Linked DNA regions of Homo sapiens. The protein of the gene in region 6 interacts with the protein of the main gene of each other region in a biochemical or structural test. Each region holds a gene or a part of one and is shown on either strand. Other genes may lie near its edges. The genes, in order: C4orf36, DAPP1, CDPF1, DCTD, KIRREL3, TRPV4 and DEGS2.

Region 1 (3,359 bases), on a different chromosome or scaffold from region 6:
TTTTTTTTTTTTTTTTTTTTTGCTTTTGTAGAGATGGGGTTTCACTCTTTTGTTCAGACTGGTCTTGAACTCTTGGCCTCAAGAGATCCTCCCACCTCAGCCTCCAAAAGTGCTGGGATTACAGGCATAAGCCACCATGACCAGCTTGGAAACTACTGTTTTAAAAAACAAATCTTTATTTGAAATACATTTACAGAAGCCGGGCAGAGTGGCTCATGCCTGTAATCCCAGCACTTTGGGAAGCCAAGGCGGGTGGATCACCTGAAGTCAGGAGTTCAAAACCAGCCTGGCCAACATGGCAAAACCCCGTCTGTACTAAAAATACAAAAATTAGCCAGGCGTGGTGGCTTGCGCCTCTAGTCCCAGCTACTCAGGAGGCTGAGGCATGAGAATCACTTGAACCCAAGAGGCGGAGCTTGCAGTGAGCTGACATTGTGCCCCTGCACTCCAGGCAACAGAGTAAGACTCGGTCTCAAATAAATAAATAAATAAAAATAATATAAAATAAAATACATTTATAACTGGCAATGTTTAAAAAGAGAAACAAACTGAGTTCCACTGAAATTAAGAGATTTTCTCGGTCTCTGGGCGGGCCGTGGGAGGCTTCCTGAGGTGGGGGCCGGGCCAGGATGGCTGCAGCGCAGCGACGGCCGGGGCCGGGAGCGGGTCCTGGGCGGCCCAGGAGAAGCAGTTCCCGCCGGCGCTGCTGAGTTTCTTCATCTACAATCCGCGCTTCAGGCTGCGCAAAGGAGAGGGGGAAAATAAGATTTTATTTTATCATCCAAATGAGGTAGAAAAAATGAAAAGATTAGAAATGTCGGATTGTGTGAAGCTATTGTACAGTTTACAAGGACCTTTAGCCCATCAAAACCTGCAAAATCTTTACATACACAGAAGAACAGACAGTTCTTCAATGAACCAGAAGAAAATTTCTGGATGGTCATGGTATTTACATACACAGTGTATCTTTCTGAAATTGTATGGTGAAGCTATGGGTGATCTTTACTATTCAGAATTTAGGAAAGTTCTCTGGCTGTTGCATCCAAGTAAAATTAAAATAAAATTGGTTGCAATTTTAAAATAAAAAAAAAGAGATTTTCTCATGGATATACAACTAATTGGGACAGGGAAGACTCTAGAACCCAGATCTACTAAAACCTAGAGTTTTCTCTCTATTACTATCTTATCTAAATCTGATTTTTAAGAAATCAAAACTAACAGCAACAATGCCAGATATATTGCGCAGTAGATTTGCGGACTTTAGATTTTAAAATATTTACAGTTTTCAAATAAATTATTGGAAGTATTATCCCTGAGACTAGATGGATTAGTGACAGTAACCCTAAAAAGAAAGAGTTCAGGCCGCTCAGTGGGATGTGGACTACAAAAATAAAAATACAGCATGAATCTTTTCACAGTCCAAAACATATGTTGATACAGCTGGAGATTGTTAATTTTTAAAGAAAATTGAATTGGTTTTGATTTCCAAAGAAATGAAAACACACTAAATTTCTGCTAACAACTATCTTTGGTTGTGTAATCGTAAAATGGTCTTTTTCCACATTTTAACCAGTTAACAATCCAGCTCTAATATTTATGATAATTACTGAGATGGAGGAAATTTAGTCAAAATGTCAGAAAGAACAAATAGGAGAGGACAGGTATGTAAAGGAAGTGGGAAGAAAGAGTAGAGTGGGTAATCTGGTGAAAGCTCCAACTCCCAGACTTTCAGCCAAGAAACTTTGGGAATGTTTCTGGTTGGCAGATCAGAGTCTTACACAGAGCACACTGGAATTTTATGAGGCAAATTTGGACTAGGAATGTTGATGTTCCACCTTCTCAAGTCACACAGCCAAGGCTATATACAGAGCCTGGGTTCCTGACAACTTTTTTCAGGGATGAGGATCACTAAATCAAATGAGTCACTCACATCAAAACTCCTGACACAAAGTGCTCTTCATTTGTGCCATATGTCACAGATAGAAGAAAATATCGGGATAATTCAGATAATGGCTTCTAAATATGTCAAAGCAGCAACCACCAGACACAACTCCTTACTCTGAGGTTAAACTATGGACCTACATGGATTATAACCCCCAGGATGCTTTGATTGTTCCGCACCTTTATAAAATTGGAAATCTACATTTATAAAATCTGCATTTCTATAATTACAGATGTACTGATATGCTATCTAGAATTTACTTCAAAATAACCCAATGGTGGGAACTGGGGTGTGGAAAGTGAGTGAGTATAAGTGAGATAAAATTGGCCGTGAGTTGATAAGTGCTGGAGCAAGGTGATAGAGACATAGAGATTCATTTTCTTATTCTTACTACTCTTGCATGTTTGAAATTTTCCACAATAACGAGTTGCATGTGTTTTTTTTTTTCATCTTTATTATCAGATTCTCTAAAAAAATTGGAAGATCTTCCCCTTGGGAAAATCAAACTGGAAGATTATCCCCTCAATGCCACTCTAGCATGGCACCGACAGACTGGAGCTGAGTGGCTGCTGCCCCTTTGGAGGAGGCGCATGCTCTCCCCTTCTCCAGTCTCTGCACTCCCTGTATGGCTTCACTGGACCATTTTGCTCATTTATGCTACTGACTCGATATTGGAATGCATAGGTTTGTAACCTCAAAGTTATCCATAACCCCCAAATCCCAGAGTGATAGCAATGTATCAAAAATTTTATATTTGCAGAGTGATATCAGTAAGGTGGCAGAATAGGAAGCCTCAGATCCTCACTCACCAAGGAAGACACTGACTTAACAATATACAAACCAAACTGCTTTAGTAAGAACTCCAGAAACAAGTTAAGAGGTTGCAGCACCTCAGCAAGTGCATTGAAATGGGTAGGAAAATTCATGGCATTTTACCTGCCCTAGCCATTCCTTCTCCCGTGCACAAGGTGGCACAACCAGGAGAAAAATTCTAACCCCATTTTTCCTCAGGAGTGAAAGAGATGAATGCACTGTTTATCCAACATTCTGGTTTTTCGGGGATGCTGCTCAAGGACTGGGTTCTATCTTACCTGACTTGGAACAGTGACCAGAACAGCAGTTTGGATGCCAAGTTGGGGGGCCACTGGGAACAAAGGCAAGCTCCACAGTTTGTTACAGCACTGGAGAGAGTGTAGTACCACAGACAGACACCAGGAAAAGCAAAAGATTATGAGCTCCAGTGAAGAAGCAAGTAAACCTTTTTTAACTGGGAAGTTATACACACAAGCCCAGAGAAGATGCATTCCCAGAAAGGTTTGGGAGGTCGCCATACACTCTAGCCAGGCTGACTGGTGAAGACCCTCCCCTGCATGAAGCCAATGTCTAAAGACTGGGAGAGGTAGCTGTTTTTTATTTG
Region 2 (3,500 bases), on a different chromosome or scaffold from region 6:
CTAAGATGATCCCAAATCCCAGCCCCTGGAGTACACACACTTTATCCCAATTATTCAATCAAAAACTAGTCTACATGCTACTGGGAAGGGATTTAGCAGGTCATAAAGTCCCAAGTCAGTTGATGTTAAGATATGGACATTATCTGAGTGGGCCTGAACTAATCACATGAGCCCTGTAAAACAGAGTTTTCTCTGGCTGCTCACAGAAGAAAAAGTCAGGGAGATGTGTTCTGGCTGGCATGCAAGAAAGCAAACACCCATGTGGTAAACAGCCATGGGTGCCATGTGGCAAAGAACTGTGGGTGGCGTCTAGGAGTTGAGAATGGCCCCTGGCTGACAGCTAAAAGGAAAAGGAGGACCTCAGTTCTACGGCAGCAAGGGAATGGATGAAAAAGGATGAAGAGGAAAGGAGAAAATGAAGGAAGAAGACACTAAATACCAGATCAGAGCCACAAGCTTCTCCAACACCTTTATTTCAGCCTGGTAGGATCCTGGACAGAGAATCCAGCCAGAAACTGTGAGATAATCCAGTTGCGTTGCTTTAAGTCCCTAAGTTTTTGATAATTTGTTATGTAGCATAGAAAATGAATATAGAAGCAAGGCCCAGAGCCCAAAGAGACAATGTGAATGCTGCTACTGAGTTAGTGACCAGTAGTGACCGTGTAGACTGGGAAAGAAGTGAGAGAGCCTCTGAGGCCAGATTAGCTTGAGGAACTGCACTATGAAGGGAAGAGTGACTCTCCAGGGTATATGGAGGTGCCATCAGAACAGTAACACAATAACAGTTTGAGCTTAATGGGTGGGTGGCTGAGGGAAATTTCATGGAGTCCTTACATCCCCTGCCTAATCCATGGAGAAGCGCCTAAAAACCCAAGAATACTTGCTACATGTCAGTGGAAGCCAGAGTGTCAGATGCGACTGAGAACCAGCCGCCTCCCCTGACTACCAGAAGCTTGGTCAGCCTCTCTGATCTGGGGCACCAGACAGAAAGAAGGGGGTGTGAGGTGGGGAGGACCTGAAAGATCTGGACAATGACTGCATTTGGCTGTATGAACCTGGTGGGGACTGGATTAACTTTCTTACCATTTGGGAGAAATAGAGACTCAATATGAAAAGCTAGCCCACTATAGGAAAAATTTTAAACATGTATATTGCCTCCTTGAGGTTGTGACTATGAAAGCCGTACAGTCATAAATCATTCTGCATTTACAGAGAAATCAAAGAATAGTGAAAAGGACACTGAGCCAGGTGTCAGGAATTTGGATTCTGGCACTGTTTCTATTGTTGATTTTTGAGGTACCAGACATTCCACCGCTTTGGGTTTCAGATTCTTCAACAGTCCCATGAAAGGTTTCCATCAAATAATTCCTCATGTCTCCTCCAGCTCTAACAATTTTTTTCCTGCTAATGAATGGAGCAGGAATGTTGTTTTACACCCTCATCATTTAGAGTTTGGAATCCTTTAACCTGGTGGTCCAACAGGAATTGGGAAGTTTTGCTGTCTGGCAATTTGAGTGATGATAAAGTCAGTAAGTGACAGAGGAGCCCATGCTGAAGTCGTAGAGCCCTGAAGCACCTTACCTCACAGAGAGAGAGTACAGCCCGGTGGTCTCATTGCTGTCCCTCAGAAGGTAGCTGCCGTCACATCCATTTGAGAGGAGAAGAGCTTCAGCAGCATGGCGTGTGAGGTTGCCGTGATACCACCTAGAAAGGAGGGAACAGCGCTTTCACTCAGGCCAAACCATGGCATGACTCCCCCTGCACTGGCTTTTCCTTGCAAAGATTACCTAGCAACATTCTTCAAGATAAGTAGCCCAGAGACCCAGCTCTCAGCCCCAACATTAGGACAAGGAAATCCCTGGGTGGGGCTGAAAGGAGAGCACAGAGTTGACTAATAGTAGCGTGACATGGGTTGAATTGTGTCCTGAAAGTTCTTATGTTGAAGTGCTAACCTCTCAGTACCTCAAAATGTGACCTTGTTTGGAGACAGGGTCTTTACCAAGTTAAAATGAGGTCATGGCTGGGTGTGGTGACTCACACCTGTAATCCCAGCACTTTGGGAGGCCAAGGCAGGCGGATCACTTGAGGTCAGGGGTTCGAGACCGGCCCGGCCAACATGGTGACACCCCGTCTCCATTAAAAACACAAAAATTAGCCTGGCATGGTGGCAGGCACCTATAATCCCAGCTACTCGGGAGGCTGAGGCAGGAGAATCACTTGAACCTGGGGGACGGAGGTTGCAGTGAGCCAAGATCATGCCATTGCACTCCAGCCTGGGTAACAGAGTGCAATTCCATCTCAAAAAAAAAAAAAATGAGGTCATTAGGGTGGGCCCTAATTCAATATGACTGGTGTCCTCTTGTAAAAAGGGAAAATCAGGAGATAGATTTGCCTACAGGGAGAACAGCGCATGAACATGACAGTCACTTCCAAGCCACAGGAAGAGGCCTGGAACAGATTCTCCCTCACGGCCCTCGGAAGGAACCAATCCTGTTGACACCTTGATTTCCGACTTTGAGCCTTCAGAACTGTGAGGCAATCGATTTCTTATAGTCAGCTGCCCAGGCTGTGGTTCTTTGTTATAGCAGCCCTAGCAAACTAATACAGTGTTGCTTTGTAATCAGAATTGGTTTTTAAAGTCCAAGTCAAAATACCATAAGAATAGGCTTTGACCAATTTCCTTCTTTTTTTGGTCTCTCACACTCTTTTTCAAGTGTGGTACCTTTTCACGGCGAAACCTCTGTGCTATAATACTAAAGGCTATTGTCATGAGTGAAACGAAGCTGGATGGAAGGAATTATAGTATGAAGTAAATGCCACCAAGTACTGTTTCAGCCTGACAAGTATCTGAAGAGCTAGGGAATGCTCAAGGAGATTCAAAATGATATTTGTGTTTTAGAAAAGGTAATATATATCTATGGTAAAAAAAAAAAAATTCAAATTGTCCAAAAGGAGACATAGCAAAACATGTTTTCTTCACCCTGGGCCCTCAGGCTCCCTGTTCCTTTCCTAGAGGACACCTTGGTAACCATTTTCCTGTGCTTCCTCTTAAGAGATAGTCTACACACTTAGAGGCATTGGATGTGTACCTCCACTCCTGATTCTACAAACATACGAGCATTATTTATTATTTTTATTTTCTAGGCATATTGCTCTGCACCATCTTTCTTTTCTCCAATAACAGGTCATTCACATTCTTTTAAACGATGTCATAGAGGCATGAAATGTGATGATTAGGATTGTGGCCCCGGGGGTTGCTTTGCCTGGGTCCCAATCCAGGTGGTACCTCTTACTAGCTGTATGGCCTTGGACATGTTACTTAACCAATCTGAGCTTTGGTTCCTCATGTTTAAAATAGTATGACTAATAGGCATACGGCATAGGCCAGTTGTGAGTCCTGCACACATTAACATGGATGAGATGTGCTCCATAAAGCCTGGCAACTAAAGCAGTGCTTAGTATGCGTTAATTGCTACCAGGAAGCCATTGAGATCCAAAAA
Region 3 (3,781 bases), on a different chromosome or scaffold from region 6:
GCCATAGGTCATGGCTGATTTTCCGACGGCAGAGATTTGGGCTGTTCTGACGCTGCATTCACTCTCCTGCAGCCTCCTGGAGGAAAGCTATGTCATGAAGGATCCCTTCACCTCCGACAAGGACAGATTCCTGGTCCTCGGCTCGTGCTGCAGTTTGTGCAGCAGGCTGGTGTGTGTGGGCCCGGTGGGTAAGCAGCGTGGGCTGGGGCCACCTGTCCTTGCTGTGGTTATCCTGGAGCTCTCCCTGGGTAGGGAGGGCTGGGAGAGAGGGAGCAGCGGGTTCACCCCATTATAGATGGGGCCCCTCAGCTGATGAAGGGGAGAGGTGAGAGGGCAAGCTAGGGTCAGTTAGAGGGTCTCAGCCTGGTGTAGGAATGGAAATAGGTAATTGGTGGCTCTGCACCCACCCCAGTGGCCCCTCAGGGTTCCTCCCCTTCCCACCAACAGTGCAGACAGTCCTTGTGCGCCCTCTCACCAGGATGGTGACTTACTTTCTAGATGTTCTTGGAGGGATCTCCAGGAGAAGGGACTGTCCTTTCATGAGCACTTGTTGTGTGCCAGGTCCTGTGCTTGGGACCTGTTTTACTGCTGAGGCTTCATTCAGTCCTGCCCCTTAGTCAGGTAAAGCAGTATTATATTCCACCCATTTTATAGATGAGGGAACTGAGCTTCAGAGAGGCTGGGTGGGCCAGGTTCACCTGGGTAGCTGTAAACCCAAGGACGGATGGAAGTGGAGCAGCATGGCTTTCACAGCGTGCCCAGTGTACTCAGAGTGACCCCAGAGTCTGAGAAGTCCCTGAGCATCTGCCACAGGTTGACACACACAAAGGGGAGCTGTATCAATAGCCAGGGGGACGAGATGGGCCAGGGTGGGAGGAGCCTCCGCAGTGTGGCATGGGAGTATCTGAGGCTCATGGAGGAGCTGGTGGTCCAGGAGAAGCTGGGAAAGGAAGACTGCAAAGGTGGGTGGGCCAGGTGGGGAGGTGGAGGTCTTGAATGCAACACCTTGGCCTTGGGCTGCTCTTCGTGAGCAGCGGGGTGGCGGGGGTGGGGGGCGCACGCAGGTACCACAAGTCTGCAGCTTTCTTTGTTTAAACAGTAGGTTGTTAGTGAGCGGATCTCCATGGCGAAGGGTCTTTTCTAAGAACTGCAGGAGGGCAGCCTTATGTTTGCGAGCACACTAAGCTTTAAGAACAGACAGACACCAAAAATAAGAGTGGCCTAAGTAAAGCAAATAGTTATTTACTTACTTTCTCCTATGTAAGAGTCCAGAACTGGTGGCCTTGGCTGGAAGGGCACCCCTGTTGTCTTCAGCAGAGTCTCTATTTGGGTCCCTTGTGGCTGTGGAGCTCCCACCATCATATTTGCATCCCAGGCAGCGGGAAGGGACGTGAGAGCACAGTCCATGCCTTCAAAGGGCATGACCAGGAGGTGGCACACACAGTTGCTGACGCCCCTAACCAGCCTGAGTCACATGGCGATGCCCAGTTACAGAGGGGGCTGGGGAATGTCATCCTTAGCCACGTGCTGTGCACCGTGATGAATCTCGGGAGTTCTAGTGTGTAAGAGAGAGGAGAGCGGACATGGCTGCACGGTTCTGGCCTCCTGCCCAGACTAGCTGGCTCGTCCATGGCGTCTTTGGTCTGTGGGGCTGTCCTTCCTGTCCCCTGCCGCTCCCAGCACCAGGTGGCCACTGTTCGTGCTGCGATAGCTGGGACGGGAGGACTCTGGGATTTTCGGGGCATGGCCTGTGCTCCAGCTTTCCATTGTTGTCACTGCCCCGTGATGGAGCAGAGCAGGCCCCAGAGTCTTTCTGTCCCATCCCAGCTGTTCCCACCCAGGGTAGCCCAGGCCTGCATTGCTTTTCTCCTGGACACCCTGCCAGGCCCTCAGGCCTGGCTCTCCCTCTTGCTGGTCTAGCTCTGGCCACCTGCCCACACTGTGCATGCTGGGGCCCCAGCCCAGCCCCCCAAGTGTGGGAAGGGCTGGCCCCTGGGAGGAGCTGCACCATGTTCCCAGGATACTCAAGCCTCCATCCTTGTCCACTTCTTTAAGGAATGCAGTTTATTCTACTCCAAGAGATTCTGCCTCCCTTGTGTCCGGGAGAACATCAATGCTTTTCCTCAGGAAATTCGGCAAGACTTGGAGAAAAGGAAAGCTCCATCAAAGAGGACCCCCAGCCAGCCCGGTTCTCGGACGTGAGTGCAACTGGGGCTAGGTCATCGGGCGGCACCCTGCACAGAGCTCCTGGGCCAGCCTGCGCCAGGGATGCTGCTGAGCTGGGAGCCGCCATGCCTGGCCTTGTTTCTGGACCACTGGGAGCAGCACTGCAGCCCAGGGGAGCTGGAGTCCAGCTTGGAGCAGCCACAGGCCCAGGGAGCTGTAGCAAGAGGGTAGTCCAAAGGCAGATGCCAGACAAGACACAGCCAGGAACCCGGCCAGGTCCCCCCACATGCCCCTCAGGGCCCAGGCCTGAGTGAGTGCTGCTCAGATGTGACTGAGAGGGATGACCTCCTTCAGCAGGGCAGCTCCTAAGAGGCTGCGTGCAGGTGCGTGTGGGGGGAGATGCCACACTGTGTCGGGGCCATGGTGCACTGTAGGTGGCTGCAATGGTCTCTCTGTAAGGAAAATCACTGACAGCAGCTCCTTCTGGACCCAGTCTGGAAGGTCTAGAGGGGGATAGAATTTTTATTTCATATCCTTATGTGGTGCTTGGAAAATGTTTTTAACCTTGACCATGTATTATGTTTATAATTAAAAACCCAAAGAACCAGCTCATGTTTGGAAAAGGAATCTTCCACTGAAACATTTGGATACCCGACGTTCTCCCTGGACACTTGGCCCGGCAATAGTTGGGGTCTCCTGGGAAGCTGAGTGCTGGCTTCTAGCCTCTCCAGTTCCCTCAGACTCTGTCTTCAGCTCGGGCCCCTCCGTTCTGTCTCCCTCGACTCCAAGTCAGGAATACCGTGGGCTTCCTGCCCTCACCCCACACCTCAAGACCATCCCACTGCTTGCCTGCTTGCCCCCTGCCATCTCGCACTCAGCCCTGGGTGCCTGTGAAGCCTGGCCCCACTGCCTGCCGGGGGTTCCTGCAGCACCCCCCTACTCCAGGCTCCCCATCTCCCTGAAGCTTCCAGGGTAGCAGCTGGTGGGACACTGATCTGTGAGCTCTGGAATGTCTGCTTAGAATTCTGAGAGGCAGGAACTGCTCTGTCTTTGTAACTACTCAAGGCCAACTGTCACATGAAGGAATGAATAAAGAGTTTTTACTGACTTGTGCACTGATGGACTTTAAGATGCTCACTGCTTTAAAAGTTCCCGTTGTATGTGACTTCAGACGAAAGGATGTCGTATTCCGGAGCCAGATTGTCCTTGATCCATTCTGTATGTTGAAGGACACAAAAGGGACTGTGCAGGTGGAGACAGCCTCCATGAGGGGCGCAGGGACTGTTCTGGCGGAGGGCGGACCCCACAGCTGGGGACTTGGTTCTTTTAGACCAAACAGTCCATCTCGCAGCATCACTCAAAACTCACCAAAAAATTTTAAAAAATAGTTTATTTTTTAAAACCATTAAGGCAAAACTGTACCCTGAAATTAACTCTGTACATTCATCAGTCTTACAGTAGGACATCCCAAACACAGAAGTTCCCATATATTCAGGATATAAATCAATACATGTGGTCAGTTCAGTCTCCTAATAGGAAAACGAAGACCCAAGATTTTTTTTTAAAATTAAGGTTATTTTATAGCCATTTTCTAATTGCCTGGAACCAATCAGTT
Region 4 (3,500 bases), on a different chromosome or scaffold from region 6:
CTCGGCTTCCCAACGTGCTGGGATTACAGGCGTGCACTCCATACTCAGCTAGGATCTTTTTCTTTATTGCTGTTATCCAACCTTTTCTCATCCAATGTCTTTTAATCTGCATGTCTGTGGAGTAACCTACAGTCTGACTGTCCCCTCCTATTCATGCATCCTATCTCCATATGGTCTATATTCATCTTAGAACTGCGCCAGTCTTTAATCGTTAGAGGAGGGAGGGAAAGGCGCCTGTTTCTATTAATTTATCCATATGTACACATGCACATTCTCCCTGTGGCATTGCCTCCAACAGCTTTTTACAGCTCTGATTTGACCGAGAACGCTTTCAGAACTCCGTAAGCTGAGAAAAAGATACTAATCTAATGCCATCAAAGCTATAATACTTATATTTTTCCTTGGAATAAGAGAACTGGAAGAATCTTCAGTGATAATTTACTTCATAGAGATATTGAGAAATAAATGTCAGGTGATGCCTCTAACAGCCCCACAGTCACTGGGCATGAACATACCAAACCTGGAACCCTTGGCTCCTTACGGCGGCTCCAGGATTCTTTCGTGTGAATATGGCAATTGTTGTTTTAAGCACTATGGGGCTTTACTTAGCTAATGTGTGTATTACAGACATGCATATCCCTATCCAGATTAAAAAAAAAAAAGTCTTCAGGAAGTAAAAGTAAAAAGCAATACAAACATTTGCAAAAATCTCTAAGAACTAGGTTTTATTGTGTATTTCTGGGAGCAAACAATATATTCATATTCTACTTTAATATAGCTGGTATTAACAAAACTCCTGAAGGGAGATTCCGGATTAAAAAAAACTCAAAATACAATAAAGCTTTAGTCATTTCAGCCAATTTCAGAGAAGATCAGTCAAAATCAGCACAACTGACATAGAACAGATCACCAGAATCAAGACTATGAGAGTAATCATTCTCAGGTAACCACACTGTACAGCAATCCCTGTGTTTCTAAGCAAAGACTTAGCAAAGTTAAAGAAATAAAGAAGTGGCCGGGCACAGTGACTCAAGCCTGTAATCCCAGGACTTTGGGAGGCTGAGGCGGGTGGATCACCTGAGGTCAGGAGTTTGAGACCAGCCTGGCCAACATGGTGAAACCCCATCTCTACTAAAAATACAAAAATTAACCAGGCGTGGTGGCACGTGCCTGTAATCACACAGCTACTCCGAGGCTGAAGCAGGAGAATCGCTTGAAACCTGGAGGTGGAGGCTGCAGTGAGCCAAGATTGTGCCACTGCACTCCAGCCTGGGTGACAGAGCAAGACTCTGTCTCAAAAAAAAAAAAAAAAAAAAAAAGAAGAAGAAGAAGAAGAAGAAATAAAGAAGGAATATCCATTTGCATTCAGATCATTAATGTGCTCAAATACTTAACATAGCTGTTTTCTAAATTAGTTTGCATGTGCCCCTGACATTTTATCAAGGCTACTAATTTTTCAACAAACCTTTTATCTTGAGAGATTACAGTACAAAGATAAACTTCAGCCCACTTCTGGGAACCCTGGAACCACTACTTTAGATTAAGTTTTATTTCAAACTTCTACGAGGTGAACTGACTCAAAAGTCACTTTTTATAGAAAGGAGACAGATATGTGTATTTTCATGGGTAGGTCCAATCCCCAAACATTTCAGCTTTTCCTAACATGTGTGCTCTTCAAAACAAGGAGTTATTTTGTTACTATATGTCTTTCATAGATATTCATAATGAAATAGTAAACTCTAGCACTTTAAAAATAATTAACTCTGTAACTATAAAAATACATAAATATCAAAATAAATTATATTAAAATATCATTATTTATTCCTTTCTGAAAACTGTTTATAAACAATTATATCTTAAAGTAAAACATGCTTACATGGAGCTGGTTGATTTTAGTGGGTGGGAGAAGACTCATATATACACTGGTGTGTCCCTCTGTTTATCTGAAACCCCACACGATCACAGCTGAGTTTGCCCCTTGATTCGTAAAAATAATCTACTTAATTTCTTTTCTATGCAGTTGTTCAAAGGTTTTCCATTGATTATAACAGTAGTTTTGTACAAAAGTCCCTAATTAGACCTGCTGTCGGGCCACAACTAGTAGAAGGCCAGGCAGGGGAGGAGCGGCAGGAAGCTTTAAGTGAAATTAAATTCTGCAGGAAAAGAAACAGCAAGTTATCAAATTCATGGACTGACTAACGAAACCAGAGGACATTCAATTTCAGGACGGAAAGAACAAATTTGATCTTAATTACTAAGAAGCTCTTACAAGTTGTGAGGAAGTCATATCTTAAGAAGGATCAGCCTCCTAACTTCTTGATAAATTAGTTTCTCAACACTAACCTTTCAGATGCCAAAGAAATATATCACGTGCATGGCAGTCAGGAAAATGTCAGTGTTCAAGGGGGTAAAGTAAATGGCTAAGTAATCACAAAAGTGACATCTATGCATGCTTAACAATATGCTAAGTCTGAAAAATAAAGATGAAATTTAAATAGAGAATTTAAAGAGGCACTGCCCCACACTGGCAAAGGTGTTTAAGATGCTCTGCTGAACTCTTTCGCCTTAATTAATTCCAGGTTTTTCAGCATTTTCCTTCCCAGCATTACATCCTTTTTAGAGTATCCCTGTAGACATAGGAACTGACTCGGGTAAGAGCCCCACTTCTACCCAACGCACTCAGAGTGAGGCCTCCCCCGACTCTTGGGGACACTGAGATGCTACGGTTCCCTCCCTGGTGCAGTGAGATGCAGCAGGCCAAGCAACCCTGGCTCCCTGGTCCATTGGGTGGGATAGGAGGCCAAGCACAGAGGCACTCACCAAAACCCAGAGCCCTTTGCCAGCAGAAATCAGCAAGGCCACAAGTGCTGGGCAGCTGGATACATGTGGCAAGCATTACTAAAAATTCCCTTAAGTTTAACAACGGGAACAAGTTAATTCTCCAACTCTCTAATTTGTAAACTATATCATCAAAATCGGTTACGAAAACCCAAGGAAAGAGTGATATCTGAATCACCAAGAGTATTTTACCTCATTTGATAACATTGGTATTTTGATTAAATGTGCTTCACTATAATGAATTCCACAAAGAAAAAGGAATGAAAAATGTCAACTGAATACTTCATCACAGGTTTAGCAACCCACCCCCTCATGAAAATAAAAATCTTCCCAAGTTTTTTAATCTTGTAAATTAGATAAATCTGCTGCTTCCTCTTTTTTAATTGTCATTCATCTGAAAAGATTCTTAGTATAATAACATTGCCTTCTTCCTGCCACTTAATGTTACTGACATCATATTATCTTTTGGATTTTTCAGGAAAAGGATGGAATAAAAAGCTTCTTTAGCAGAGGGAATTTTCATTTTCCACATTAATACTACATTATAATAAAATAGTTTTATGAAGTTTTGATCCCAAGACTGGAAGAACAAAAACACCCTTTAAAAATAACTCTCTAGAGACACAGCCCAGGAAAAGCTCCATCTTCCTATTATGTTACAA
Region 5 (4,272 bases), on a different chromosome or scaffold from region 6:
AAGCAGGTGGCTGTGTGAGGGTGCCGGGTGGGGGGGTGTAACCTCAGGCCTCATTCTGGGGGATCACAGTGGAGCCATTTAGAGCCATGTGGGCTAGACCTCCCAGGACCTGTTAGACATGGATGCGTTCTATCCAATAAGTTGATGAATGCATGACACTGGGTAGAGGTGGGGCACAGTACATGAGCTAAGCATATATGTGAGGATGGTCAAATAGAATCCTCTGGGGAATTCATAATGCTCAAAACAACATCCACATAAACAAATTTCCACAGATCAAGGCAAAAGATAACCATATCACATTGCAGTGAAGTCCATAAAACACCTTCCCACTTGATGGCTGGACCCCTTGATTCCCATAGTCGGACACTGTCTATTCAAGAAGCACACCATGTACAGGGATGCAGGGTATCTGACCAGCCATGTCCACTTGGGTCTCCTCATTTTTGTTTAGACCTGTTTTCCAGCCTCTGGACCAGGTATCTACCATTTGGTAGGGTGGACAGTGATGGCCAAGCTCAGAACACTCCAGGAGCACAAGGCATTAAGAACTGCATGATGTTATGGTTTCTTCCTAGCGCTCTCAGGACTCGGGGTAGATAAAACAGAGCATTTAACCTCCATAGGTAAATATTTAAAGATTCACATGAAGCAGTCAAGAAACAGCTCCAGACCAAGAAAGAAATAAGCACAACAGAAGATGTACACTGTAATGATTCAGACGGCCAGGGAGGTACTTAGACACCTATAGCCTTCTTATGCCAATCTACATAAGTATCACGGATCAAGCTTCTAACTACACAAAAGGCTGATTAAAGCATGCACTGGTCCCATGCAAATGTGAGTTTGTGTGTTTACGGGGGGTTGGTTGGAAGATTCCCTCCTTCTCAGGGGTTCTATATCAAAACTTCCTGAGTGAACTGGTAAGAAGCAAAGACGAATGGGAGTGTGTGTGTGTGTGTGTGTGTGTGTGTGTGTGTGTGTGTGCTCATAAGCAAGCACATACACATCCAAGAAAGAGGGTAATCTTACCAAATGGTAATATAACTGAACCTGTCTCTATACCAGTGTTCTGAGAGAGTTCTTATTCATTCAGCCTGAAACTCTGGGGAAGGCAATTTATCTTCCTGCTGCTGTAGGGAGCCTTGGTGAGAAGCACACAACCATATGAATACATGAGTGTGTGTGTGTGTGTGTGTGTACATACATTATCATTATACACAGGCATTAGTATGCACATACAAATATGAAGAAGGAGCCCCTTCGGTTTCATCAGGAGGACCAGAAGCAAAGTTTGAACTGCACAGATAAGGAGAAAGTCTGCAGTGACCACAAGCACGGGTGGAAGAGCAGAAGAAGGAAGCCAGGTTTTTGCTTATATTTGGCTTCTCCCCGACAGGGGAGAAACAGAAGACATGCTGTTTGCTTGCAAAGCCAGCCACCCATGGCAGTGCTTTGCTTTCTCGAAAACTTTTACCCTTCATTTAATCAACAGATGGACGTGCTCTGTTGTGGATTTTTTCTGAGTCTTGCACCTCTAAGAGCTGTGTTGGCTGGCACAAATGCAGCCTCAGATGGCAGAGGTGCATTGGCATTCCAAAAGAGCGGGAAGGAGCCCATGTACTTGCCCCTCCAAACTCAATTCCACAGGTGACTTTTGATGCCTTTGGCCAACTAGGCACTCACATTCCCTCTCCCGAATTTCCCTCTCCTTTCTGCACCACTACCAGCCCCAGGGCTCCCAGTGGCAAGGAGCCTAGAGGTGGCAAAGTTCTTTCCGGAGAGTCCACCTGCTTCTCTGCCCCTGCTAGGCTGCAGAAAGGAAACCATCAGCACCACGGGCGAAATTTCATTTTATACCCTGAATTCAGTGCTGTGTAGGATTCAGAATTCAACCTAATTTAGGGAACTCGATGACGTTCAATGAAACTCTTTACAAGCTTTTCCCAACCACTGCAAATTACCCCCCACAATACATTCTGTAATTGCAACCCCCTTTTCAACGGTGCAAACCACACACATTCGCTTTTGAATACACTTGTGCAAGTCAAACCCTATTCAAGCTGAAATATCCACCTAAACCAAGCTCTCCCTCCCTGCCGTCTCCTTCCCTGGCCTGGGTCTGAAGGAGAGGAGGTGCCCAGAAGTTCAGAGCGGCATAACCACAGAGATACTACCTAATTAACATACCAGAAGCATAAAGAACTCATTTGCATTGGAGAGTTTGAGCTGGATATTGACAAGTGAGAGGAGAAAGTCATTCCCCTCCCCTCCCATACCCCTTCTTTCCAAAGGAAAATAAACAGTACCATTTTGTTGCATTCGCAAAGGCGAAGAGGCAATGCCAGAGCATCTCAGCCCGGCACCGAGAGACGCATCCATCAGTCCGAGTTCCCGAAGCCTGCCCACGTTCCTGCCCACAGCCTCCCGCGCCCTGACAACCCAGCCGACTTTCTTCCAACTCCAGCAGCGCAGGGGTCCTACCTTGACTGAAGAGGAAGAAGCAGACGAAGAGCAGATCGAGCTGGAAGGGTTTCATTCCTTAGCGCAGCGAAGGAAAGCCGGCGGGGTAACTTGGCTGTGGTTAGTTTCTCTTCCTTGGCGGCTCTCGGTGCTCAGCCTCCGCCGGTCCTCTCGGGTTCGCGCCTACCATCTGTCCGTCCGTGGGTCCCTCCGGGTGGCTTCGGTCTCTTTGTGCCTCTGGGTATCTGCAGCCAGCCGACACAAACTGCCTGTTCTTAGCCGCCTCGGGAAGCCGGGATTGTCAGCAATGTCCCCACTCGGAGAAGATCCATTCTCTGGCTCTTGGCATCCCAGGCACACGGCTTCCTCAGGCGGGCTCCTCCCACAGTGAGCGAGCGAGCTAGTGACGAGTGACAGAAGGACTCCTTTCACTGAAGCTGAGGCGAGGGGAGAGGGAGGGGAGACAGGTCATAATTAAAGAGGAAACACTCGGAAAAAGGAGATCTATGCAAAACGGACAGTGGGGGAAAAGGCTGTGTTCTTTCTTTTCCCTAAATAGGGAAAAATTCAGCTTTTGTCACCATTATTGACCAAAAGGCATCTTGAGCTTGGAGTGGAGCTGTGACTTTTTGTCCACACGATGTCCTGTTTAACAGTGAAGTTAAGGATGACTATCCACATGCATGTGCACAAAAACATGCACGCCCTGCCTTTGCAAAGGAACTGGAAACTGGGCTGAAAGGGAACTAGGAAGGGGGGGTGCGCATCTTTCCCTCGGAAGGACTTGGCCAATGTGTGCAGCGGGAGGCTCGGAGTTGGAGAAGAGATAAGCATGCTTTGCATTTCTGAGAGTTTCCTGTGGGTGGGTGGGTGGTTGTGGTGGGGGGGGGGGGTAGGTAATAAAACCTGAACATTTGGATCTTAGTTTGCTTTGCACTGCTCCTGGAAGACAAAATGCAGGAACTAAAGGGAAGGCAAGTAGGCTTGTGACACACACCCATTTATTATCATTATCCTGGTTTGTGCATTTCCTAACGAGGACAGGGGAGCAGCCTGTCTTTGCATTCAGAGCCTCTCCTCTAATGAGCGCTCCATCACTCTGAGCCTGTCTTTTCTCCAAGAGGTGCTGTGAGTCCAATTGCAAAGGAGAGGCCAAGGTCATAGACAACTGCGTCCTAAGGATCTTCAAGCCTTTTACCTGTCATGAAATTCACACTCCACACTCAAATCAAACTCGGTTTCCTCCAGGATATCAACATGAATTTATCTGGGTCTATTTACTTAATAGACATTTAGGCATGCTTGGTATAAGCAGGCCATGGAGGGAAGCAAAATAATAGGCACAGACCATGCCTTCAGAAGCTCATAATCTAGTGTGCAAGCAGAGTACACACACAAGATGCAAACTCTAAGGACATAACAAAACAACACAGAAAAATATTCAACGTTATGCACTGTGAGAAGGAGAGGTAAAGAGAGAGGAGAGGAAAATGAAAGACGCTCCCCTGACATGTGCCATTTAGCATTCAATTCTAAAATCAGTCATTACTGTCTTCAGTCCCTGGACCTTGGGGAGGTCTTTTGGGAAACTCTTAGCCTTTCCTCTTTCAGTAGTAGCACATCTTTTGAGGACTCTGCTCACTACAAGGCACATTCCAACTCCAAGTTTCCATGCGGATGTTAACTTTAAAAAATTATCCCTTGGTATTTGTGAACAAGAAAGAAAGAAGCAGGGGCATATAGAAGTGTGCTAGTAGGAGCTGACATCTGGTAGTTGACACCAAAGATCTACAAATTAGTAGGTGTCTG
Region 6 (3,500 bases):
CCTGCAGCTTCCAGATGTGCTTGCTCTCCTTGGAGACCTGGCCCACTGTCTCGCCCATGAGGGCAATGAGCATGTTGAGGAGCAGCACAAAGGTGAGGATGATGTAGGTCACCAGCAGGATGATGAAGACCACGGGGTACTTGGTGCTGCTCAGCATCTCCAGGTCGCCCATGCCGATGGTCAGCTTAAACAGGTCCAGGAGGAAGGTGCTGAAGGTCTCGCTGTCACGGCACGAGGGGTAAGTGGGCACTGTGCAGTTGGTCTGGTCCTCATTGCACACCTTCATGTTGGCACACGGGTTCAGGAGGGAGACCAGGGCTGTGGGAGGATAGGGGTGGCACTCACTGAGTGTGAGCACACCCACAGAGAGGTGGAGGGTGTCATTCTCATTTGCTGGAGGAGAAAGCTGAGGCCTAGTGAGCGGAGCACGCTGGCCCACACGCTGACCCATGTCACCCTACACATCAGCCAAGCCACACCAGACCCAGGTCCTCCTGATCCCAAAACCTTTGAAGCCTTTCCATAAACTCTTGCTGATAAGGAAGAGGTTATCTCTCTCTCTCTCTCTTTCTTTCTGAGATGGGGTCTTGCTATGTTGCCCAGGCTGGAGTGCAGTGGCTACTCACAGGCTCAATCCCACTACTGATAAGCGTAGGAGTTTTGACCTGCTCTGTTTCCAACCTGGGACAGTTCACCCCTCCTTACACAACCTGGTGGTTCCCTGCTACCGGGAGGGAAAAGGTTTTCAGGATCTAGTCCAGGGAGGGTCTCAGTTTTTCCCACCAGGGGACATTTGACAATGTCTAGAGACATATTTGGTTGTTACAACTGGGGGTGGGGGTGCTACTGGCATCAGGTGGGTGGAGGCCAGGGGTGCTGCCTGACACCCTACAATGCACAGGATGGTCCCCGCCACGAAGAATGATCTGGTCTCAAATGTCAATAGTGTTGGGAAATCCTAATGCGGCCTACCATTCTTAGAGGTCTTGGGGGCTCTGGAATGCCCCTATTCGCAGGGGTAGACTCTCTCTCTGACAGTTTCCCACTCCACCCCAACCCAGAGAGGAAAAGTGGGGGCTGAAACCAGGCATCAGTCCTGACTGTCCCCAAAGCCGTGTTCTCTAAGGGGCCTCTCCTGCTCTAGACATCTCAAACTCATCATGGTTCTCCTTTCCTACTAAGCCCAGGTGGAGCTTCAGATTCCTTCTCAACACAGTTTGGCAGCAACAACCTGTCCCTAAACCAGCCAGGGAGGGGAGCATGAAGAAGACTCAGTCCCATCAGTCAGTGGGGCACAGAATGTCATACTGCCTGCAACCAGGGATTAGAGTATGCAGATTTCAACTCATATGCTAATGTTCTTCAGTTGTATAGTACCTGGTGAAACACTGTGTTGAGAAGGATTCTGAGACCTTGTCTGGACTCACCGGAAAAACTGTTCTGTGATCCATTAGTGATGTCTGCTATGGACACCAAAGTGTGGGAACAGAAGCATGTGTGTCCTGTTTATGTCATGTCAGCCTCAGAATTGAGATCTAGTGCATCCTATAAGGAGAAGACCTGCAACCAAGCTGACTGCTAAGCTGCTACTCTAACCCTTGTTTCTCCTTAGTTTCAATAACTAGGACTGCAGTAGGGCTAGATCCCTGACCTGAATCCCAAACTGTTGTTGAACCCTTGACACTGTCTAGTTTGTCCAGTGTGATCCCTGGGAAGGGAAAGCTGTACCCTGTCCCTATCTCCCCAGTGAAAACTACAATTCCACTTCCCACCAATAATCTACCTAGAGACTTGGCCACTATCGTGGGTTAAAATATCACCCTTGTCAGATTCCTGTGCCAGGCTCGTCCCCAGATGAACCTGCTCAGATGTGTATGTGTCCAGGTCTAACCTGAGTTGGCCATTCCCCTTTGGATGCTGGGCATTGATGTCAGATTACCCACACCTCGGGGATCAGCCCAAGGACTTGGTCAGTTTCTCCAGCCCTGGTCCCTGGTCCTTCTCCCATGACCCATGCCACTGAGGTCCCAGAATGCTTCTTAGTGGCATCATGACATCACGAAGAAGGTATATCAAGGGAGCTGATGTTGGGCTTTAAGAAAATACCTGGGCTGCTAGTTTAATTATTAAATTTTATCCTTCCATGTATCCATCCTCCTTCAATGTGGCTTTACAGCTTCTCCCACTAAGAAGTGGAGTCTAGGCCAGGTGCAGTGGCTCGCGCCTATAATCCTGCACTTTGGGAGGCTGAGGCAGGAGGACTGCTTGAGCCCAGGAGTTCAAGACCAGCCTGGGCAACATAGCAAGACCCTGCCTCCACCAAAAAAAAAAAATGGAAAAAAAGAAGTGGCGTCTATTTCCCCATCCCTTGAATCGAGGCTGGCCTTGTGACTTGCTTTGGCCAACAGAGTAAGGCAGCAGTGATGCCATGCCAGGAGGTGTCCTTGAACACTTCTGCTCATGTTCTTGGAACCCTAAGGCCACCATGTGGACAAGCCCAAGCTAGCTGTCCAGAAATGAGTGACCATGTGGAAGATAGATAGCAAACCCCCTCTAACCAAGTCCATACTAGCTAGACCAGTCAGCCAGCAGCCAGCCTGCCAGCTGACCACAGGCACAAGAGCCTGTAGGGATCAGCCAAACCTGGCCCAGGGCAGCACAGCCACCCAGCTGACCCATTGACTCATAAGCAATAGTAAGTTGGCCTGGTACAGTGGCTCACGCCTGTAATCCCAGCACTTTGGGAGGCCAAGGTGGGTGGATCACTTGGGGTCAGGAGTTCGAGACCAGCCTGGCCAACATAGTGAAACCCCATCTCTACCAAAAATATAAAACTTAGCCATGCGTGGTGGCACACGCCTGTAATCCCAGCTATTCGAGAGGCTGAGGCAAGAGAATCGCTTGAACCCAGGAGGCAGAGATTGCAGTGAGCCAAGAGCACCACTGCCCTCCAGCCTTGGTGACAGAGTGAGACCTTGCCACAAAAAAAATAATAATAATAAGTGGGTGCTATTTTAAGCCCCACTTTAGGTGGCTTCCTTTGTAGCAATAGCTAATACTCCAGTTTTGCCATTCACCAGCTTTTTTTTTTTTTTTTTTTTTGAGACAGAGTCTCGCTGTGTTGCCCAGGCTGGAGTGCAGTGGTGCCATCTTGGCTTACTGCAACCTCCACCCCCTGGGTTCAAGCGATTCTTGTGCCTCAGCCTCCCGAGTAGCTGGGTCTATAGTTGCGCGCCACCATGCCTGTCTAATTTTTGTATTTTTTGGTAGAGACGGGGTTTTGCCATGTTGGCCAGGCTGGTCTCAAACTCCTGACCTCAAGTGATCTACCCGCCTCAGCCTCCTGAAGTGCTGGGATTACAGATGTGAGCCACTGCGCCCGGCCACCATTCACTGGCTTTTGAACTTGTGCTAGTTATTTAACCCTCCTAAGCCTCAGTTTCCTTTTCTATAATAGGGGATAATAAAGGCACTTAGCTTACAGGCTTGTTGGGAGGCAA
Region 7 (3,500 bases), on a different chromosome or scaffold from region 6:
CTTGGGAGGCTGAGGTGGGAAGATCGCTTGAGCCCAGGAGTTCGGGGCTGCAGTGAGCCGCAATTGCACCACTGCACTCCAGCCTGGGCGACAGTAATGGCAAAAACAGATAGATAGATAGATAGATAGATAGATAGATAGATAGATAGATAGATAGATAATAGATGTGAGAGATAGATACATAGATCCTATCAGTTCTGTCTCTCTGGAGAACACTAATACAGGGCCTCTTCCAGGGCCTCAAAGAAAGGGGGACAGGGAGAATGGGTGGGGCTGGGGAGTGGGAGTCAATGGGTTCCATGGCCTTGGGCCCCATCTTCTCTGGGCCACAAGAGAGGGGGAAAGCCCAAGGCAGAGAAGGACAGGGAGAGACACAGCTCCCTGGCAGCCCCATGAGGAATTGCAGGCCTGCATGGGCTCTGGCTAGACACCCAAACCTGGCCCAGCCTGGGAACTCTGTCCTGCTGTGGGCACTCAGCTGACCTCAGGTGTGACTCTGCCCTTCCACACCTCCAGCCTGGATGGCAGGAGTAGCTGGGAGACACATGTGCCTTGAGGGCTCTCTGCTCCGTGGGGCAGCACAGAGCCCGACGTGCACAGCCACCTGGAACCAAGATACACAGACCCACACAGACGGTTTCCAGCAGCGGCCCCAGGTGAGGCACAAGGCATCTGGGCAGGTGGCCATGAACAACAGCTGTTGCTAGAAGTCACCCTGTCCAGGCAGGACTCAGGAAGGGTCTGAGGTCAAGGGAGGTGCAAAGAAGGGCCCACCAAGGTGCAACAAGGCTGACCGAGCCAAGACTTGAACTCAGGACCCCCGACTCCAGGCCTGCACAATGGTGAGCAAGGCCCCGATGTGGACTCAGACTCCATCAGCACCGATCTAGTGCTTGGCTACACTGCCACAGAGCACCCAGAGAAAATTCTGGATCAGATCTGGGCGCAGTGGCTCACACCTGTAATCCCAGCACTTTGGGAGGCTGAGACGGGCAGATCACTTGAGGTCAGGAGTTCAAAACCAGCCTGGCCAACATGGTGAAACCCCGTCTCTACTAAAAATACAAAAATCAGCTGGACAAGGTGGCGTGCGCCTGTAGTTCCAGCTACTTAGGAGGCTGAGGCAGGAGAATTGCTTGAACCTGGGAGGCAGAGGTTGCAGTGAGCCAAAATCACACCACTGGACTCCAGCCTGGCAACAAAGCGTCTCAAAAAAAAAAAAAAAAAGAAAGAAAAAATCATGGATCAGGCTCAGTCAGACTCCTGTGTGCCCTTGGGCAAGCCCCTGTCCCTCTCTGGACCTGTCTCCTCAGTCTCCATCTGTAAGGCATCTGCTCTGACAGCCTCTGTGGCTGGGAGCCCATGGAGGTGGGGTCTTCCCTAGGGGCCTATGGAGAAGAAGGGGCAGCAGATGCCAAGGTGTGAAACGTCTGCACACTTATACCAGTTAGCAGGCTCACTCATAAAATGCCAGAGGGCAGAGCCAGAGGCAGGGCCTGCTGAAGGGAGGCCAGCCCAAAGCCCCCTGCACCCACAGGACAGTTGCATCACCCTGGTGCGACTCTGATGGGTTACAGCCTTTGCCCAGAAATGCTCCTGACAAATCTGCTGAGCCATTGAGCAGAGGGACCGCATCAGAAACAGGCAGCCAGGCCAGAGAGGCTGCTGTACCCTTGCCTCCAAGAGTAGCAGAGACAGGGCCCCCCCACGCCACACCCCTACTCCCAGTCACAGGCCACTCCACCCCTGCCCCTCCTGACTAGCTGGCAATAAAGTCACTTTTGTCTTGTCCCCAGCAGGGCTCCCAAAAGCAAAGGGGCCTCTTATCTCTTCCACACTGGGCCCCAGTGAGCCCCCAAGCCCTGGCTCTGGCAACATCTAGGGAGACCTGCTGTATCACCTTCCCAGGGAGGCCAAATGCCATCATATGACAGTCACTCACTGGCCACATGGGAGGTGCCCGTCACTGCCCATCATCCCTCCAACATTCCACCTCTGCCGCCACCTGCTTCCCAGCTCCCTGTTCCACCACAAACCTGCTCAGGGTTGACGATGCCACCTGGTGGCCACAGCAGGAAATGCTTCCATACAACGTGGCCTCTTCCCCACCCATCCACAGCTGAGTAACCTGACCTGGGACAAGCTTCTCCTCACAAAGGCAGCAAAGCCCTCCTAATCCCCTCCTTCCTAAACTTCTTCCTCCCAGCCCTGGCCTAATGCTCTGGGAAGCCACCTACCCACAGCTTCCATCCCTGCCACCTGAGGTTTTGTGCCAAGAGACAAGCCTGACCCTGTCCAGTGTGGGAGGCACCCTGGGACCTAGTTGGATCTGGAAAGTGTGGCAAGTGTCCAGCTTCTCACCAGCCGCTCACTAAACCTGCCTTTCATTTCCAGTGACAAATATATACTGAAGATCTGGGAGCAGCCAGGCCCCCGTACGTTACAGAGATGGGTTTACCCTGCAGCCGGGCAGCTCTGTGGCTGGGAGATGGAGCCCCAGGATCCCCTTGTGGCTCTGGCAGTTTGGTCCTGGATTTTACCAGTTACCACTGACAGAGCCTCAGCCCCGGCCTTTCTGAAGCAAATAATCCAGCAACAGCCAGCAGTTTCGCTTCCGGGATTTCCTCTTTTGTTTTTCTTTATTTGAATTTTTGTATTACCATGTGTGCCCTGCTTTCATAATTTAAAAACAAACAAAATTACAAAGCTATTCATTTTCAAAAAAAAAACAAACCCAGAGCTTGCCTCTTACTCCACCGGCCACGCCTGGCTGGGTCTCTGATGGGGCCAGTCTCGCTGGCTCCGGTCCTGCCCTTTCAGGTCAGGGAGCCTCAGCCCTGGCCTAGGAGACCCCACTTTCTTAGGAAGTTATGTTCTAGGGAGCATGTCCCCCTCCCCGGCAGGAGCTGGAGATGGACTTTGGCCCCAACCCACAGAGCTCCTGGAGCCAGCTCTTTGCAAGGACTTCCTGGATTCTGACTGTCAGATTATGATCTTTATTGAACATCCCTGGGCACCCAGGAGCTTGGCATAGGCTGCAGGAGCCAGCTGGGTGGGGCAGGAGGCTGCCTGAGCACCAGCCTGGCCTGTGTGTTCCCCGGCAAGTTGCTTCCCCTCTCTCAGCCTCACTCCTGCCTCTTCTATAAAGAGATGCTGGCAGTTACACAGAGCATTTCTCCAAGGCCTGGGAATAGCATAGGCATGGAGGAAGCAGAGAGTATTCCCTGTCCTTAGGGAAACGACAGCCCTTGCCAGGTCTCTGAGACATTAATCATTATCATCGCAGCTGATACTCATCGAGTCCTGGAATAAGCACTTTACATATCACCTCGTTTAATCTGCACAGCAGCCCCATTAGGAAGGTATGATTTATTAACCCCTTTTCATTTGCCCAGGCCCCAACTCCTTCATCTGTTTACAGACTCACCCGTGGCTAATAAGTGGGTGTCAGGGTCCTTGCCAGGGGTTCAGCTCCACAGCCAAGCTCTTGAACTGTGCCC

What was found.
Region 1: the proteins of TRPV4 (region 6) and C4orf36 interact in a test that uses a peptide from one of them, tested with the Homo sapiens proteins (one large-scale study listed by BioGRID).
Region 2: the proteins of TRPV4 (region 6) and DAPP1 interact in a test that uses a peptide from one of them, tested with the Homo sapiens proteins (one large-scale study listed by BioGRID).
Region 3: the proteins of TRPV4 (region 6) and CDPF1 interact in a test that uses a peptide from one of them, tested with the Homo sapiens proteins (one large-scale study listed by BioGRID).
Region 4: the proteins of TRPV4 (region 6) and DCTD interact in a test that uses a peptide from one of them, tested with the Homo sapiens proteins (one large-scale study listed by BioGRID).
Region 5: the proteins of TRPV4 (region 6) and KIRREL3 interact in a test that uses a peptide from one of them, tested with the Homo sapiens proteins (one large-scale study listed by BioGRID).
Region 7: the proteins of TRPV4 (region 6) and DEGS2 interact in a test that uses a peptide from one of them, tested with the Homo sapiens proteins (one large-scale study listed by BioGRID).

The regions. Positions count from the first base shown.
Region 1 is NC_000004.12:86,875,705-86,879,063, forward strand, and holds the end of C4orf36 (uncharacterized protein C4orf36), read right to left. Parts: intron 740-3,359; 3' UTR 501-739; downstream 1-500.
Region 2 is NC_000004.12:99,833,827-99,837,326, reverse strand, and holds part of DAPP1 (dual adapter for phosphotyrosine and 3-phosphotyrosine and 3-phosphoinositide), read right to left. Parts: intron 1,705-3,500; coding exon 1,582-1,704; intron 1-1,581. UniProt on the Homo sapiens protein: May act as a B-cell-associated adapter that regulates B-cell antigen receptor (BCR)-signaling downstream of PI3K.
Region 3 is NC_000022.11:46,243,513-46,247,293, reverse strand, and holds the end of CDPF1 (cysteine-rich DPF motif domain-containing protein 1), read left to right. Parts: intron 1-72; coding exon 73-184; coding exon of another isoform or gene 185-188; intron 189-498; coding exon of another isoform or gene 499-617; exon of another isoform or gene 618-621; intron 622-2,055; coding exon 2,056-2,202; coding exon of another isoform or gene 2,203-2,480; 3' UTR 2,481-3,281; downstream 3,282-3,781.
Region 4 is NC_000004.12:182,907,387-182,910,886, forward strand, and holds part of DCTD (deoxycytidylate deaminase), read right to left. Parts: intron 1-3,500. UniProt on the Homo sapiens protein: Catalyzes the deamination of dCMP to dUMP, providing the nucleoside monophosphate substrate for the thymidylate synthase/TYMS.
Region 5 is NC_000011.10:126,997,971-127,002,242, forward strand, and holds the start of KIRREL3 (kin of IRRE-like protein 3 isoform 1 precursor), read right to left. Parts: upstream 2,801-4,272; 5' UTR 2,540-2,800; coding exon 2,485-2,539; exon of another isoform or gene 2,323-2,484; coding exon of another isoform or gene 2,310-2,322; intron 1-2,309. UniProt on the Homo sapiens protein: Synaptic adhesion molecule required for the formation of target-specific synapses. Required for formation of target-specific synapses at hippocampal mossy fiber synapses.
Region 6 is NC_000012.12:109,788,399-109,791,898, forward strand, and holds part of TRPV4 (transient receptor potential cation channel subfamily V member 4), read right to left. Parts: intron 345-3,500; coding exon of another isoform or gene 319-344; coding exon 2-318; intron 1-1. UniProt on the Homo sapiens protein: Non-selective calcium permeant cation channel involved in osmotic sensitivity and mechanosensitivity. Activation by exposure to hypotonicity within the physiological range exhibits an outward rectification.
Region 7 is NC_000014.9:100,153,146-100,156,645, forward strand, and holds part of DEGS2 (sphingolipid delta(4)-desaturase/C4-monooxygenase DES2), read right to left. Parts: intron 1-3,500. UniProt on the Homo sapiens protein: Bifunctional enzyme which acts both as a sphingolipid delta(4)-desaturase and a sphingolipid C4-monooxygenase.